Linked DNA regions of Homo sapiens: region 2 is linked to region 1. Evidence: fine-mapped expression QTL. Tissue or cell type: neural progenitor cells. Region 1 holds a variant in brackets; the other region holds the start of a gene. All regions are shown on one strand. Distances are from middle to middle.

Evidence for each region. PIP is the estimated chance that this variant, and not a neighbour inherited with it, causes the effect.
Region 2: it holds the start of DNAAF3, and the variant in region 1 is fine-mapped to the expression of DNAAF3 in neural progenitor cells (Aygun 2021, PIP 0.95).

Annotation. Positions count from the first base shown.
Region 1 is chr19:54,891,526-54,899,626 of GRCh38, reverse strand. It overlaps a transcript of NCR1 not described here. Among named protein-coding and RNA genes, the nearest start is that of NCR1, 11 kb to the left of the region's middle. RefSeq lists enhancers at 5,485-6,237, 6,238-6,988. The variant C/A (reference allele first, on the strand shown) is at 4,341.
Region 2 is chr19:55,163,019-55,171,119 of GRCh38, reverse strand. DNAAF3 (dynein axonemal assembly factor 3) reads left to right here and starts at 4,507. Exons shown (of 12, transcript NM_001256715.2): 1 at 4,507-4,597; 2 at 4,703-4,791; 3 at 5,120-5,262; 4 at 5,657-5,750. The coding sequence starts at 4,707. It overlaps DNAAF3-AS1 (DNAAF3 antisense RNA 1), which reads right to left. Exons shown (of 4, transcript XR_007067345.1): 3 at 6,320-6,576; 4 at 4,216-5,301. It overlaps LOC124904795 (small nucleolar RNA U13), which reads right to left and starts at 3,949; the gene lies at 3,846-3,949. RefSeq lists a silencer at 4,896-5,127.

The DNA of each region.
Region 1 (8,101 bases):
GGCAAGTACCGCTTTTCTAGGGGGCAAGAATCCCCCGATCCCTTATTTCTGTGCCCTGACGTCTTATCTCTGCACCCCGATCCCTTATTTCCACACCCCGACCTCTTGTCTCTGCACCCCAATCCCTTACTTCTGTGCCCTGACCCCTTTCCCGCTTTTCTGGAAGGTAAGAACCCCTGAACCCCTTCCCTCCATGTCTCTACTCTCTCTTTTCTCTGTGCTTGCCTCCTTCAGTATGGGCAACCTTCCACCCTCCATTCCTCCTTCTTCTCCCTTAGCCTGTGTTCTTAAAAACCTAAAACCTCTTCAACTCACACCTGACCTAAAACCTAAATGCCTTATTTTCTTCTGCAATGCTGCTTGACCCCAATACAAACTTGACAGTGGTTCCAAATAGCCAGAAAACGGCACTTTCAATTTTTCCATCCTACAAGATCTAAATAATTCTTGTTGTAAAATGGGCAAACGGTCTGAGGTGCCTGACATCCAGGCATTCTTTTACACATCGGTCCCTCCCTAGTCTCTATGCCCAGTGCAACTCGTCCCAAATCTTCCTTCTTTCCCTCCCGCCTGTCCCGTCAGTCCCAACCCCAAGCATCGCTGAGTCTTTCTAATCTTCCTTTTCTACAGACCCATCTGACATCTCCCCTCCTCGCCAGGCCGAGCTGGGTCCCAATTCTTCCTCAGCCTCCGCTCCTCCACCCTATAATCCTTTTATCACCTCCCCTCCTCACACCCGGTCCAGCTTACAGTTCCATTCCATGACTAGCCCTCCCCCAACTGCCCAGCAATTTCCTCTTAAAAAGGTGGCTGAAGCTAAAGGCATAGTCAAGGTTAATGCTCCTTTTTCTTTATCTGACCTCTCCCAAATCAGATAGTGTTTAGGCTCTTTTTCATCAAATTTAAAAACACAGCCCAGTTCATGGCTCATTTGGCAGCAACCCTGAGACGCTTTACAGCCCTAGACCCTAAGTCAAAAGGCCGTCTTATTCTCAATATACATTTTATTACCAAATCTGCTCCCAACATTAAATAAAGCTCCAAAAATTAAATTCTGTCCCTCAAACCCCACAACAAGACTTAATTAACCTCGCCTTCAAGGTGTACAGTAATAGAGTAGAGGCAGCCAAATAGCAACATATTTCTGAGTTGCAATTCCTTGCCTCCACTCCAGTATCCAGATGAGACAAACCCCAGCCACATCTCCAGCACACGAGAACTCCAAACGCCTGAACCGCAGCTGCCAGGGGTTCCTCCAGAACCTCTTCCCCCAGGAGCTTGCTACAAGTACTGGAAATCTGGCCACTGGGCCAAGGAATGTCCACAGCCTGGGATTCCTCCTAAGCCGCATCCCATCTGTGCGGGACCCCACTGAAAATCGGACTGTTCAACTCACCTGGCAGCCACTCCCAGAGCAGCTAGAACTCTGGCCCAAGGCTCTCTGACTCCTTCCCAGATCTTCTCGGCTTAGCAGCTGAAGACTGACACTGCCCGATCCCGATCGCCTCGGAAGCCTACAGGACCATCACAGACAGTCTAGGTAACTCTCACAGTGGAAGGTAAGCCCGTCCCCTTCTTAATCAATATGGAGGCTACCCACTCCACATTACCTTCTTTTCAAGGGCCTGTTTCTCTTGCCTCCATAACTGTTGTAGGTATTGACAGCTAGGCTTCTAAACCTCTTAAAACTCCCCAACTCTGGTGCCAACTTAGACAATACTCTTTCAAGCACTCCTTTTTAGTTATCCCCACCTGCCCAGTTCCCTTATTAGGCTGAGACACTTTAACTAAATTATCTGCTTCCCTGACTATTCCTGGACTACAGCTATATCTCATTGCTGCCCTTCTTCCCAATCCAAAGCCTCCTTTGTGTCCTCCTCTTGTATCCCCCCACCTTAACCCACAAGTATAGGATACCTCTACTCCCTCCTTGGTGACCAATCATGCACCCCTTACCATCTCATTAAAACCTAATCAACCTTACCCCGCTCAATGCCAATATCCCATCCCACAGCATGCTTTAAAAGGATTAAAGCCTGCTACAGCATGGCCTTTTAAAGCCTATAAACTCCCCTTACAATTCTCCCATTTTACCTGTCCTAAAACCAGACAAGGCTTACACATTAGTTCAGGATCTGCACCTTATCAACCAAATTGTTTTGCCTATCCACCCCGTAGTGCCAAACCCATATACTCTCCTATCCTCAATACCTGCCTCTACAACCCATTATTCTGTTCTGGATCTCAAACATGCTTTCTTTACTGTTCCTTTGCACCCTTCATCCCAGCCTCTCTTCGCTTTCACTTGGACTGACCCTGACACCGATCAAGCTCAGCAAATTACCTAGGCTGTACTGCTGCAAGGCTTCACAGACAGCCCCCATTACTTCAGTCAAGCCCAAATTTCTTCCTCCTCTGTTACCTATCTCGGCATAATTCTCATAAAAACACACGTGCTCTCCCTGCCAATCGTGTCCTAGTGATCTCTCAAACCCCAGCACCTTCTACAAAACAACAACTCCTTTCCTTCCTAGGCATGGTTAGCGTGGTCAGAACTCTTACACAAGAGCCAGGACCGCACCCTGTAGCCTTTCTGTCCAAACAACTTGATCTTACTGTTTTAGCCTAGCCCTCACGTCTGTGAGCAGCGGCTGCCGCTGCTTTAATAGTTTTAGAGGCCCTCAAAATCACAAACTATGCTCAACTCACTCTCTACAGTTCTCATAACTTCCAAAAATCTATTTTCTTCCTCACACCTGACGCATATACTTTCTGCTCCCCGGCTCCTTCAGCTGTACTCACTCTTTGTTGAGTCTCCCACAATTACCATTGTTACTGGCCCATACTTCAATCCGGCCTCCCACATTATTCCGGATACCACACCTGACCCCCATGACTGTATCTCTCTGATCCACCTGACATTCACCCCATTTCCCCACATTTCCTTCTTTCCTATTCCTCACCCTAATCACATTTAGTTTATTGATGGCAGTTCCACCAGGCCTAATCGCCACTCACCAGCAAAGGCAGGCTATGCTATAGTATCTTCCACATCTATCATTGAGGCTACCGCTCTGCCCCCTCCACTACCTCTCAGCAAGCCGAATTAGTTGCCTTAACTCAAGCCCTCACTGATGCAAAAGGACTATGCATCAATATTTATACTGACTCTAAATATGCCTTTCATATTCTGCCCCACCATGCGGTCATATGGGCTGAAAGAGGTTTCCTCACTACACAAGGGTCCTCCATCTTTAATGCCTCCTTAATAAAAACTCTGCTCAAGGCCGCTTTACTCCCAGAGGAAGCTGGAGTCATTCACTGCAAAGGCCATCAAAAGTCATCAGATCCCATTGCTCTAGACAATGCCTATGCTGACAAGGTGGCTAGACAAGCAGCTAGCTTTCCAACTTCTGTCTCTCACATCTATGCTTATGCTGATAAGGTAGCTAGACAAGCAGCTAGCATGCCAATTTCTGTCCCCCACAGCCAGTTTTTCTCCTTCTCATCAGTCACTCCCACCTACTCCCCCACTGAAACTTCCACCCATCAATCTCTTCCCACACAAGGCAAATGGTTCTTAGACCAAGGAAAATACCTCCTTCCAGCCTCACAGGCCCATTCTATTCGGTCGATATTTCATAGCCTCTTCCATGTAGGTTACAAGCTGCTAGCCCATCTCTTAGAACCTCTCATTTCCTTTCCATCCTGGAAATCTATCCTCAAGGAAACCACTTCTCAGTGTTCCATCTGCTATTCTACTACCCCTCAGGGATTGCTCAGGTCCCCTCCCTTCCCTACACATCAGGCTCGGGGATTTGCCCCCGCCTAGGACTGGCAAATTGACTTTACTCACATGCCCTGAGTCAGGAAACTAAAATACCTCTTGGTCTGGGTAGACACTTTCACTGGATGGGTAGAGGCCTTTCCCACAGGGTCTGAGAAGGCCACCGAGGTCATTTCTTCCCTTCTGTCAGACATAATTCCACAGTTTGGCCTTCCCACCTCTATACAGTCTGATAGCAGACCGGCCTTTATTAGTCAAATCAGCCAAGCAGTTTTTCAGGCTCTTGGTATTCAGTGAAACCTTTATATCCCTTACAGTCCTCAGTCTTCAGGAAAAGTAGAACAGACTAATAGTCTTTTAAAAACACACCTCACCAAGCTCAGCCACCAACTTAAAAAAGACTGGACAATACTTTTACCACTTTCTTTTCTCAGAATTCAGGCCTGTCCTCAGAATGCTAAAGGGTACAGCCCATTTGAGCTCCTGTATAGACGCTCCTTTTTATTAAGCCCCAGTCTCATTCCAGACACCAGACCAACTTGGAATGTGCCCC[C/A]AAAAACTTGTCATCCCTACTATCTTCTGTCTAGTCATACTCCTATTCACCATTCTCAACTACTCACACATGCCCTGCTCTTGTTTACACTGCTGGTTTACACTGTTTTTCCAAGCCATCACAGCTGATATCTCCTGGTGCTATCCCCAAACCACCACTCTTAACTCTTGAAGTAAATAAATAATCTTTGCTGGCAAGGCTATGCTGAACCTCCTTAGGCACTCTCTAATTAGATGTCCTAGGTCCTCCCAATTCTTAGACCTTTAATACCTGTTTTTCTCCTTTCCTTATTCCATTTAGTTTTTCAATTCATACAAAACTGCATCCAGGCCATCACCAGTAATTCTAAATGAAAAATGTTTCTTCTAACAATCCCACAATATCACCCCTTACCACAAAATCTTCCTTCAGCTTAATCTCTCCCACTCTAGGTTCCCACGCCGCCCCTAATCCCGCTCGAAGCAGCCCTGAGAAACATCGCCCATTCTCTCTCCATACCACCCCCCAAAATTTTCGCCATCCCAACACTTTACCACTATTTCGTTTTATTTTTCTTATTAATATAAGAAGACAGGAATGTCAGGCCTCTGAGCCCAAGCTAAGCCATCATATCCCCTGTGACCTGCACGTACACATCCAGATGGCCGGTTCCTGCCTTAACTGATGACATTCCACCACGAAAGAAATGAAAATGGCCTGTTCCTGCCTTAACTGATGACATTATCTTGTGAAATTCCTTCTTCTGGTTCATCCTGACTCAAAAGCTCCCCTACTGAGCACCTTGTGACCCCCCACTCCTGCCCACCAAAGAACAACCCCCCTTTGACTGTAATTTTCCTTTACCTACCCAAATCCTATAAAACGGCCCCACCCCTATCCCCCTTCGCTGACTCTCTTGTCGGACTCAGCCTGCCTGCACCCAGGTGAAATAAACAGCCTTGTTGCTCACACAGAGCCTGTTTGGTGGTCTCTTCACACGGACGCGCATGAAACAGACCAGCCTAGCCAACATGGTGAAACCCCGTCTCCACGAAAATACAAGAAATTAGCCGGGCGTGGCGGTGCGCACCTGTAGTTCCAGCTACTCGGGAGGCTGAGGCAGGGGAATCACTTGAACCTGGGAGGCGGAGATTGCAGTGAGCCCAGATCACACCAGCGTAGCGACAGAGTGAAACTCTGTCTCAAAAAAAAAAAAAAAAAAAAAAGAAAAAGAAGTTTTCTAAGGCCAGGCGCAGTGGCTCATGCCTGTAATCCAAGCACTTTTGGGAGGCTGAGGCGGGCAGATCACCTGAGGCCGGGAGTTCGAGACCGGCCTGACCAACATGGTGAAACCCTGTCTCTACTAAAAATACAAAAATGAGCTGGGCATGGCGGCGGGTGCCTGTAATCCCAGCTTCTTGGGTGCGGGGGGGATCTGTTCTGCAGATCCCAGCTGTACGACAGATGAGACACGTCCTCAGACACCAATATTCAGTGAAAGAGCAGGCCAGGGGGCTGCCGGCACTAGGAGCCAAAGAGAGTGCAGCCCCTCTAAGCTGGCAACGCTTGCATTTATTTAGCACAGATTTAATTAACAAAGGCTTTGAGTCAACACACCTGTGGGTAATTAACCTGGTCACCGCCCCCCGCCACCTCCCTGGAGAGGGCCATCTTGCCCGAGAATGATCAAAGGTTGATTTTAGGACCATATGACTAAGCAAGCTATTTAGATAAAATACTCCGCATTCCTTTGTATCTGCGCCCTAAGCTGTTTGGCTCCTGAAAAGAGAATCTGGCTGCTTTCAGCCAAACTATCTGAAGCTATGCCAACCTCCCTGGCCTTCCAAGAAGGTTTGCTGCTTCCTATTCCTATAATTTCTTCTGCTACTCTGACTGATCTCCCACACTTGGGAGGTTGAGGCAGGAGAATCCCTTGAACCAGGGAGGCAGAGGTTGCAGTGAGCCGAGATCACACTACTGCACTCCAACTTGGGTGACAAGAGCGAGACTCCATCTCAGAAAAAAAAGTTAAAAAAAAATTGTAGGCCAGGCGTGGTGGCTCACGCCTGTGATCCCAGCACTTTGGGAGGCCAAGGCGGGTGGATCACCTGAGGTCCAGAGTTCGAGACCAGCCTGACCAACATGGAGAAACCCCGTCTCTTCTAAAAATATAAAATTAGCCAGGCGTGGTGGCGCATGCCTGTAATCCCAGCTGCTCTGGAGGCTGAGGCAGGAGAATGGCTTGAGCCCAGGAGGCGGAGGTTGCGGTGAGCCGAGACCGCACCATTGCACTCCAGCCTGGGCAACAAGAGTGAGACTCTGTCTCAGAAAAAAAAAAAAAAAAATTGTAGTAAAAACATAACATACAATTTACCATCTTAGCCATTGTAAGTGTACAGTATAGCAGTGTTAAATGTATTCACGGTGTTTTGAAACAGATCTCCAGAATATTTTCATCTTGTAAAACTGAAACTCTATGCCTAAAAGAGGAATCGTTCAACACATAGAAGTTTTATTTCAACCATTTTTGTTGTTGTTGTTGAGATGGAGTCTTGCTCTGTCACCAAGGCTGGAGTGCGGTGGTACGATCTTGGCTCACTGCAACCTCCGCCTCCTGGGTTCAAGCCATTCTCCTGCCTCAGCCTCCTCAGTAGCTGGTAATGCAGGTGCGTGCCACCACACCTGGCTAATTTTTGTATTTTTAGTAGAGACGGGGTTTTGCCATGTTGGCCAGGCTGGTCTCGAACTCCTGGCCTCGTGATCTGCCTGCCTTAGCCTCCCAAAGTGCTGGGATTTCAGGTGTGAGCCACTGCGCTCAGCCTGGGAAATGTATACTTCAGAGATTGTTGGATTTTCAGGGCCTTCTGTGGCTTGACGTCATCTGGAAAAGTGTGGTCATTGGGAAGATATTACTTTGATTGGTTGTCACTCATGCTTGGGTGTTTACTGAAATGAGTCTGATTGGATGACTTTTAGAAGCAAGGAGCTGCCTGACTGATGGTAACATAACAATATAAAACGTATGGAGTGGCCGGGCTTTGTGGCTCACTCCTGTAATCCCAGCACTTTGAGAGGCTGAGGCAGGCAGATCACCCTGAGGTCAGAAGTTTGTGACCAGCTTGGCCAACATGGCGAAACCCGTCTGTACTAAAAATACAAAAATTATCTGCGTGTGGTGGCAGGTGCCTATAATCCCAGCTACTGGGGAGGCTGAGGCAGGAGAATTGCTGAACCCGGGAAAGAGAGGTTGCAGGGAGCCGAGGTCACGTCACTGCTCCCCAGCCTGGGTGACAGAGCAAGACCCCGTCTCAAAAAAAAAAAAAAAAAAAAAGAGCATCTTCACAGAGATGAGTTGTCATTGATGATGGGTTAAAAATCAGTTTTGGTGGCTACTTGTTACTGTGGTTACAGGACAATAAAATACTTTTCTGAAGAGCTCAGGAACTTTATTATTCTGAAAACGCTTTTTCCAAACAAGGTCCTTCTGTCAGCAAAACGACTTATATGAGTTTAATCTTATCCATCTCTGGGAATCTAGCCCCATTGTGTCTCTGTAATCCAAGTCCTGGACCTGACGTAAAGTCCCTCAACCCCCTTCATCCAAAATTGTGGCACTTTCCCTTTATTTATTTATTTATTATTTATTTGTTTGTTTACTTTTGAGACGGAGTCTCGCTCTGTGGCCCAGGCTGGAGTGTAGTGGCGTGATCTCAGCTCATTGCAAGCCCCGCCTCCCAGGTTCACGCCATTCTCCTGCCTCAGCCCCTGGAGTAGCTGGGACT
Region 2 (8,101 bases), 270 kb before region 1:
GAGGCTGAGGTGGGCGGATCACCTATGGTCAGGAATTCAAGACCAGCTGGGCCAACATGCTGAAACCCTGTCTCTACTAAAAATACAAAAATTAACTGGGTGTCGTGGCAAGCACCTGTAATCCCAGCTACTAGGGAGGCTGAGGCAGGAGACTCGCTTGAACCCAGGAGGTGGAGGTTGCAGTGAGTCGAGATCGCGCCATTGCACTCCAGCCTGGACAACAAGAGCAAAACTCCATCTAAAAAAAGAGAGAGAGAGAGAGAGAGAGAATTCCTGTGAAATGCTCAGAATCACACAGCCAGAGAGCCTGTCTCTAAATCCTGGGATTGATTTAGATGATGGCAATGGGGTCCTTGGGTCTCTGTCTCAACAAGAAAGCAGAGCGATAGAAGAATAAAACCATTACAAATGGCCGTCCACACTGGGACCAAAACGTAAAAAGGCTGACATAACTTAGGGAGGGTGGTCAGGGGCAGCCTTGCTGAGGAGGTGCGGTCTGGGCCATGACTTGAATGACAAGAAGGAACGAAGCTTGCAAAGGTTAGGGAGAACAACAGTGGAATATTATTTGGTCATAAAAACAGAAGAAAGCATTGATTCATGCTTCAGCATAGATGAGTCCTGAAAATATTATGCCAAGTGAAGGAAGCCGGATACAGAAGGCTGCATAGTGCAGTATTCCATCCAAAAGAAATCTCCTGCACTGACAAATACATAGAGACAGAAAGTAGATTCGTGGTTGCCAGGGACAGAGGAGAGAGAAATGGGGAGATAAATGGGGTACGTGTTTTCTTTTGGAGTGATGAGAAAGTTCTGGAATTAGACAGTGGTGATGGTTGCACAGCATTGCAAGTGTACTAAATGTCATTCCCAATCAACTTAATAGTGTGTGTGTTTTACACCAATTTAAAAAGAAAACAAGGCCAAGCACGATGGCTCATGCCTTAATCCTAGCACTTTGGGAGGCAGGAGGATTGCTTGGGGCCCAGGGTTAGACACCAGCCTGGATAACCTCTCTATTTTTAAAATTTGTAAAGTTAGCTAGGTATGCTGGCACGTGGCTATAGTTCTAGCTACTTGGGGAGCAGAGGTGGGAGGATCGATTGAGCCCAGGAGTTTCAGGCTGGAGTACTCCAGCCTAGGCAACAGAGCAAGTCCCTGCCTTAAATAAATAAATAAATAAATACAGCCGGGCGCAGTGGCTCACGCCTGTAATCTCAGAATTTTGGGAGGCCAAGGCCGGCGGATCACTTGAGGTCGGGAGTTTGAGACCAGCCTGACCAACACGGAGAAACCCTGTCTCTACTAAAAATACAAAATTAGCTGGGCGTGATGGCACATGCCTGTAGTCCCAGCTACTCAGGAGGCTGAGGCAGGAGAATGGCTTGAACCCGGCAGGTGGACGTTGCAGTGAGCCGAGATAGCGCCATTGCACTCCAACCTGGGCAACAAGAGTGAAACTCCATCTCAAATAAGTAAATAAATAACAGCCTGGGCAACTAGTGAGACCCTTTCTCTACATAAATAAATAAATAAATATCCGGGCATGGCGGCACTTGCCTGTGGTCCCAGCTACTCAGGGGACTGAGGTGGGAGGACTGCTTGAGCCTGAGAGGTTGAGGCTGCAGTGAGCTATGATCACACCACTGAACTCAAGTCTGGATAACAGAGCAAGACTTTGTCTCAAAAATAAATATATAGAAAACAAAGATGAGGGGGAAGATAATTTAAGGCAAAAGAATCCCAAGTTGCAAAGGCCCTGGGGTTCAAACGGCTTGGTGTGTTCTCCAAGGAGCCAGGAGGCTGATGTGGCTTCAGGGGTGGATGACTGCAGATTGCATAGGGCATAGGGAGCCAAGCTAAGGAGCGGGGAATGTGTCCAGGTGCAGCGGGAAGACTTTGGAGGATTTGAAGAGGTGGGAGACATTATTTGATTTATGTTTAAGATCACTCTGGGCCAGGTGCAGTGGCTCACACCGGTAATTCCAGCACTTTGGGAGGCTGAGGCCGGCGGAACTCTTGAAGTCAGGAGTTCGAGACCAGCCTGGCTAACATGGTGAAACCCCGTCTCTACTAAAAATAAAAAAGAATCGCTGGAGCTGGGCACGGTGGCTCACGCCTGTAATCCTAGCGCTTTGGGAGGCCAAGGCAGGTGGATTGCCTGAGCTCAGGAATTCGAGACCAGCCTGGGCAACACGGTGAAACCTCGTCTCTACTAAAATACAAAAAATTAGCTGGGCGTGGCAGCGTGCGCCTGTAATCCCAGCTACTTGGGAGGCTGAGGCAGGAGAATTGCTAGAACCCGGGAAGCGGAGGTTGCAGTGAGCCAAGATCGTGCCACTGCACTCCAGCCTGGGCGACAGAGCAAGACTCCGTCTCTAAAAAAAAAATAATAAATAAATAAATCGCCTGGCTCGGTGGTTCACACCTGTAATCCCAACACTTTGAGAGACCAAGGCGGGCAGATCACCTGAGGTCGTGAGTTGGAGACCAGCCTGACCAACACGGAGAAACCCTGTCTCTACAAAAAATACAAAATTAGCCGGGCGTCCTGGCGCCTGCCTGTAATCCCAGCTACTCGGGAGGCTGAGGCAGAAGAATGGCTTGAACCCGGGAGGCGGAGGTTGCGGTGAGCCGAGATCGCGCCATTGCACTCCAGCCTGGGCAACAAGAGTGAAACTCTCTCTCTCTCTCTCTCTCTCTCTCTCTCTCTATATATATATATATATATATGTATATATATGTATATTTGTATTTTATTTTGTATATATATACAAAATATTTGTATTTTATTTTGTGTATATATAAATATATATACATATATTTGTATTTTATTTTGTGTGTGTATATATATATATATACACAAAATAAAATACAAATACAAAAATTAGCTGGTGTGGTGGCAAATGCCTGTAGTCCCAGCTACCTGGGAGGCTGGGACAGGAGAATCGCTTGAACCCGGGAGGCGGAGGTTTCAGTGAGCCGAGATCGCGCCACTGCACTCCAGCCTGGGTGTCACAGCAAGACTCCATCTCAAAAAAAAAAAATGTCACTCTGGTTCCTTTGCTGAGAATTTGTTGGGAGAGTGGGAGAAATAGGGAGGAAAGGCATTAATTCTCCAGAGAGAAACCCAGGATCTGGGGCTCTTGCAGGCTTAGAGCTGGCCTGGAAGGGGCTGGTTAGCCAGCCTGATTCTGCAGGAATGTCTGAGGTCTCAACCTTCGTTTCCCCAGTAGGTATTGTCTTCCCAGTGCCCAGATCTGCCCTCAGGAGGCAGATCCGCTGCACCTCTGCCCGCTGCACGCTACATTCCCATTTCACAGAGCAGCAGACTGAGGCTCAGAAAGGGTGACTGGTCTAAGCTCATGTGTCTGGGCAAGGAGAGGAGGCAGAGAGCCAAGTCCCCTTGGGCGCTGAGCCCAGTGCTGGGTGCTGGGGTGATCTAGAGATGTGCCTCATTCAGACTTTGGTTTTTCTTTTTTTTTTTTTTGAGACAGAGTCTTGCTCTGTCGCCCAGGCTGGAGTTCAGAGGCGCGATCTCAGTTCACTGCAACCTCTGCCTCCCAGGTTCAACAGACTCTCCTGCCTCAGCCTCCGGAGTAGCTGGGATTACAGGTGCGTGCCACCACGCCCGGTTAATTTTTGTATTTTTTAAGGTCGAGGCGCGGTTTCACCATGTTGGCCAGACTGGTCTCCAACTTCTGACCTCAAGTTATCTGCCCACCTTGACCTCCCAAAGTGTTGGGATCACAGGCGTGGCCACAGCGCCCGGCCGACTTACCCTTATTTTAATGCAGTTGATTTAACTGTACGATTACAGAATTTACCTGTAATTTTTTTGTTCATGTCAGAAGAGTAATGTGCCGATGTCGTAACAAGGTTTGAGGGAGGCACATCTCACGCATGCGCGTGAACACCCAATCATCCCGCTTAGAAACTACAAAAGGATCTAGCTGTAAGTTTAAATTATGGCTTCGTGTAACAATAACCAGCTCACAAATCCCTGAATTTTTAATGACCTGCACATCAGTGTCCCACCTGTGGGCTGTTCTGTGTGGTAGAGCCCACGTTGTGCTGGGGCGGGGAGCGGGCTCAGAAGCCTGCCATCTAAAGTCTAGACACTTCACTTTATTTGAATTGATGAAAATTCCGTTACGTATGAGCAAAGGCATATGAAGAAAACAAAAAAACAAAAAACAAGAAATAAGATTAAGCTCCCTTCACTCTCAATTTTAATCAGCCCAGGCCTCCCCCATTCCAGAAATTTGGACCGACCCTGACTCCGCCCCAACCTGTTCTAGCACCGCCCCTTCCCCCGCCGGCGCCGTCGTCATGACAACCGCGTCCACACGCCCTCTTCTCCTAGGTGTGGGGGAAGGCTGGCCCTCAGTGCTCCCATTGGCCAAAAGTTTGTAGAGGGCGGGCCTCGCTCACTCTCATTGGTCAGTTGCTCGCTGTGGTCCCATCCCACATGCTTCCATTGCTTGATTCCTCGAAAAGGGCGGGGACTCTGGGCAGCGGTTGTGGAGTGCCGCGGGTCCACAGTGCTGCACTGAGCAGAGAGGAAGGGGCGTCCCGGGATATTTGGAGGATAAAGGTGTGGGCAAGGTATCATGTGGAGGCAAAGGGGCGAGAAGTGAGGGGCGGTGAGAGGGGAGCGGGGCGGGCAATGTGTGCGATTCCCAGAATGTCTTTTCCGCAGGGTGATGACCACACCTGCCGGCTCCGGCAGCGGCTTCGGCTCCGTGTCCTGGTGGGGCCTGTCCCCGGCGCTGGACCTGCAGGCTGAAAGTGAGTCCCAGCACGCAAGGTCTGATACACCGTCTGCCTTCCCAGCCTGAGCAGACGGCCTTTTAGAGCTCGTAGTCCCAGCGTCGGTGGCAAGGGGGGCGCTAACGTTCTCCAACGCTCCAGCGGCAGAGGGCGCGCTCCCAGGGGCAGCCCCGAGGTCCTGTCTGCGGACTGCGAATCCCAGAATACTCAGAGGAAACACCTCCCCTTAGAACCTAGGCCACGGGCGGAACGCCTACTGGGATTTGTAGTCCATTTTTTATAGGGGATGCTACGGTGGACGCTCTGCCAACCACCATGGTGCCCCAGCCAGCTGTCATCTTGCCAGGTCCTCCTGTGGACCCAGACTCCCAGGCCGATACAGTGCACAGCAACCCCGAGCTAGATGTGCTGCTTCTGGGCTCTGTGGATGGACGGCACCTGCTGCGGACCCTGTCCCGAGCGAAGTTCTGGCCTCGCAGGAGGTTCAACGTGAGCTGGGATGAAGATGAGAGCCCAGATTCCCGAGTCCTTGAGGGAGGAAGGGATTGAAATTCTAAAACCTCAGGTCCAGGAATGAAGGGGCTGGAGACTCCTAGATCTGAGGGAGGCAGAAGCTGGGAGCGAACCGATGCGTCTTGGGGGAAGGAAGGGGCTGGGGTTTGGAACTCCTGGGTTCTATAGTGGGGAAGAGCTCGAGGATGAGGTCTTCTGAGTAATGGAAGGGAAGAGAGCTCTGGGGACACAGACTTCTGTGTTTGAAGGAAGAGGCTGGTGTACAGAACTCGGGTGTGTGGAAGGAGAGAGCTGAGGGCCTGCTCTCCTGGGTCTCCTAGGACCCAGGCAAACAGGTCTCAGAATTATTCTGCCCTGTCCATCCTTCTAGTTCTTTGTGCTGGAGAATAATCTGGAAGCTGTGGCCCGACACATGCTGATCTTCAGCCTAGCCCTGGAGGAACCGGAGAAGATGGGGCTGCAAGGTCTGTTGCTAGGACCCAGGCATTCTGACCGCTGGTCTCCTCCCCCTCCCTAGAGGGATTCTGGCATTTCAATGGTACAATTAAAAAGTTTGGTTATTTTCCTGGGAGGCGGAGGTTACAGTGAGCCGAGATCGCGCCATTGCACTCCAGCCTAGGCAACAAGAGCGAAACTCCGGCCGGGCGCGGTGGCTCACGCCTGTTAATCCCAGCACTTTGGGAGGCCGAGGCAGGAGAATGGCGTGAACCCGGCAGGCGGAGCTTGCAGTGAGCTGAGATCGCGCCACTGCACTCCAGCCAGGGTGACAGAGCGAGACTCCGTCTCAAAAAAAAAAAAAAAAAAAAAAAAAAGAGAGCGAAACTCCATCTAAAAACCAAAAATGTTTGGTATTTTCCAGTGTGGTACCTCTGATGAAAAAAAAAATCCAATATATTTATTGATGATGGTCCCCTCTGATGTAATTTGCCATCTTAGAGCCTCAGCTCCTCCTACCTGTAAAATGGGGCTAAATATAATACATCTTAGAGCCACTTAGAAAATTCCAGGAGAGGCTGGGTGCAGTGGTTCACACCTGTAATCCCAGCACTTTGGGAGGCTGAGGTGGGCAGATCACGAGGTCAGGAGATCGAGACCATCCTGCTCAACATGGTGAAACCCCGTCTCTACTAAACATACAACAATTAGCCGGGTGTGGTGGCAGGCGCCTGTAGTCCCAGCTACTCGGGAGGCTGAAGCAGGAGAATCACTTGAACCCGGGAGGCAGAGGTTGCAGTGAGCCGAGATCACACCACTGCACTCCAGCCTGGGCGACAAAAGCAAAACCTCCATCTAAAAAAAAAAGAAAGAAAGAAAAAGAAAACAGGTTTGTTTGTTTATTTATTTATTTATTTGAGGCAGAGTCTTGTCCCGTTGCCCAGATTGGAGTGCAATGGCACGATCTTGGCTCTCCATAACCTCTGCCTCCTGGATTCAAGCAATTCTCCTGCCTCAGTCTCCCAAGTAGCTGGGATTACAGGCATGCACCACCATGCCCGGCTAAGGTTTTGTATTTTTAGTAGAGCCGGGGTTTCACCATGTTGGCCAGGATGGTCTCGAGATGCTGACCTCAGGTGATCCGCCCGCCTTGGCCTGCCAAAGTGCTAGGTTTACAGGCGGGTGCGATCACACCCGGCCCCAAGAAAAGAGGTTTAATTGACTCACAGTTCCACAGGCTGTACAGGGAGTATGGCTGGGAAGGCCTCAGGAAACTTACAATCATGACAGGAGGCGAAGGGGATGCAGGCATCTGTTCCACGGCAGGAAAAGGGGCAAGAGAGGCAGTGGGGAAGAGGCGCACACTTGCAAATAACCAGATTTTGTGGGAACTCACTATCACGAGAACAGCAAGGGAGAAATCTGCCCCTGTGACCCAATCACCTCCCACCAGGCCCCGCCTCCAATATTGGGGATTACAATTCAACATGAGATTTAAGCAGGGACACAGATCCAAACCATATCAGTCATTAATGACCCAGGGAATTCAGAGTACATTGCACAGTACAGATTGTTCAAAGTTCTTAAACAGTTAGAACTAAACTGATCTATTTTACTAAAGGCACATAGTTCTCTTCTATTAAGTTCTTAAACAACTAACATGAAACTATTTGTATGTCTATGTGTATATATATTATATGCAAAGGTATATACAGTCATCCCTCAGTAACACTGGGGACTGGTTCCAGGACCCCTGCAGATACCAAGATCCAAGGATGCTCAAGTCCCTTATAAAATTGTATAGTATTGCCAGGGGCGGTGGCTCACGCCTGTAATCCTAACACTTTGGGAGCCTGAGGTGGGAGGACTGCTTGAGACCACGAGTTTGAGACTGGCCTGGTCAACATAGTGAGACCCCGTCTCTACAAGAAATAAAATATTGGCCGGGCGCGGTGGCTCACGCCTGTAATCCCAGCACTTTGGGAGACCGAGGCAGGCAGATCACGAGGTCAGGAGATCGAGACCATCCTGGCTAACACGGTGAAACCCCGTCTCTACTAAAAATACAAAAAAAAAAAAAAAAAAATTAGCCGCCGGGCGCGATGGCTCACGCCTGTAATCCCAGCACTTTGGGAGGCTGAGGCGGGTGGATCACGAGGTCAGGAGATCGAGACCATCCTGGCTAACACGTGAAACCCCGTCTCTACTAAAAATACAAAAAATTAGCCGGGTGTGGTGGCGGGCGCTTGTAGTCCCAGCTACTCCGGAGGCTGAGGCAGAAGAATGGCGTGAACCCGGGAGGCGGAGCTTGCAGTGAGCCGGGATCGCGCCACTGCACTACAGTCTAGGCGACAGAGCGAGACTCCGTCTCAAAAAAAAA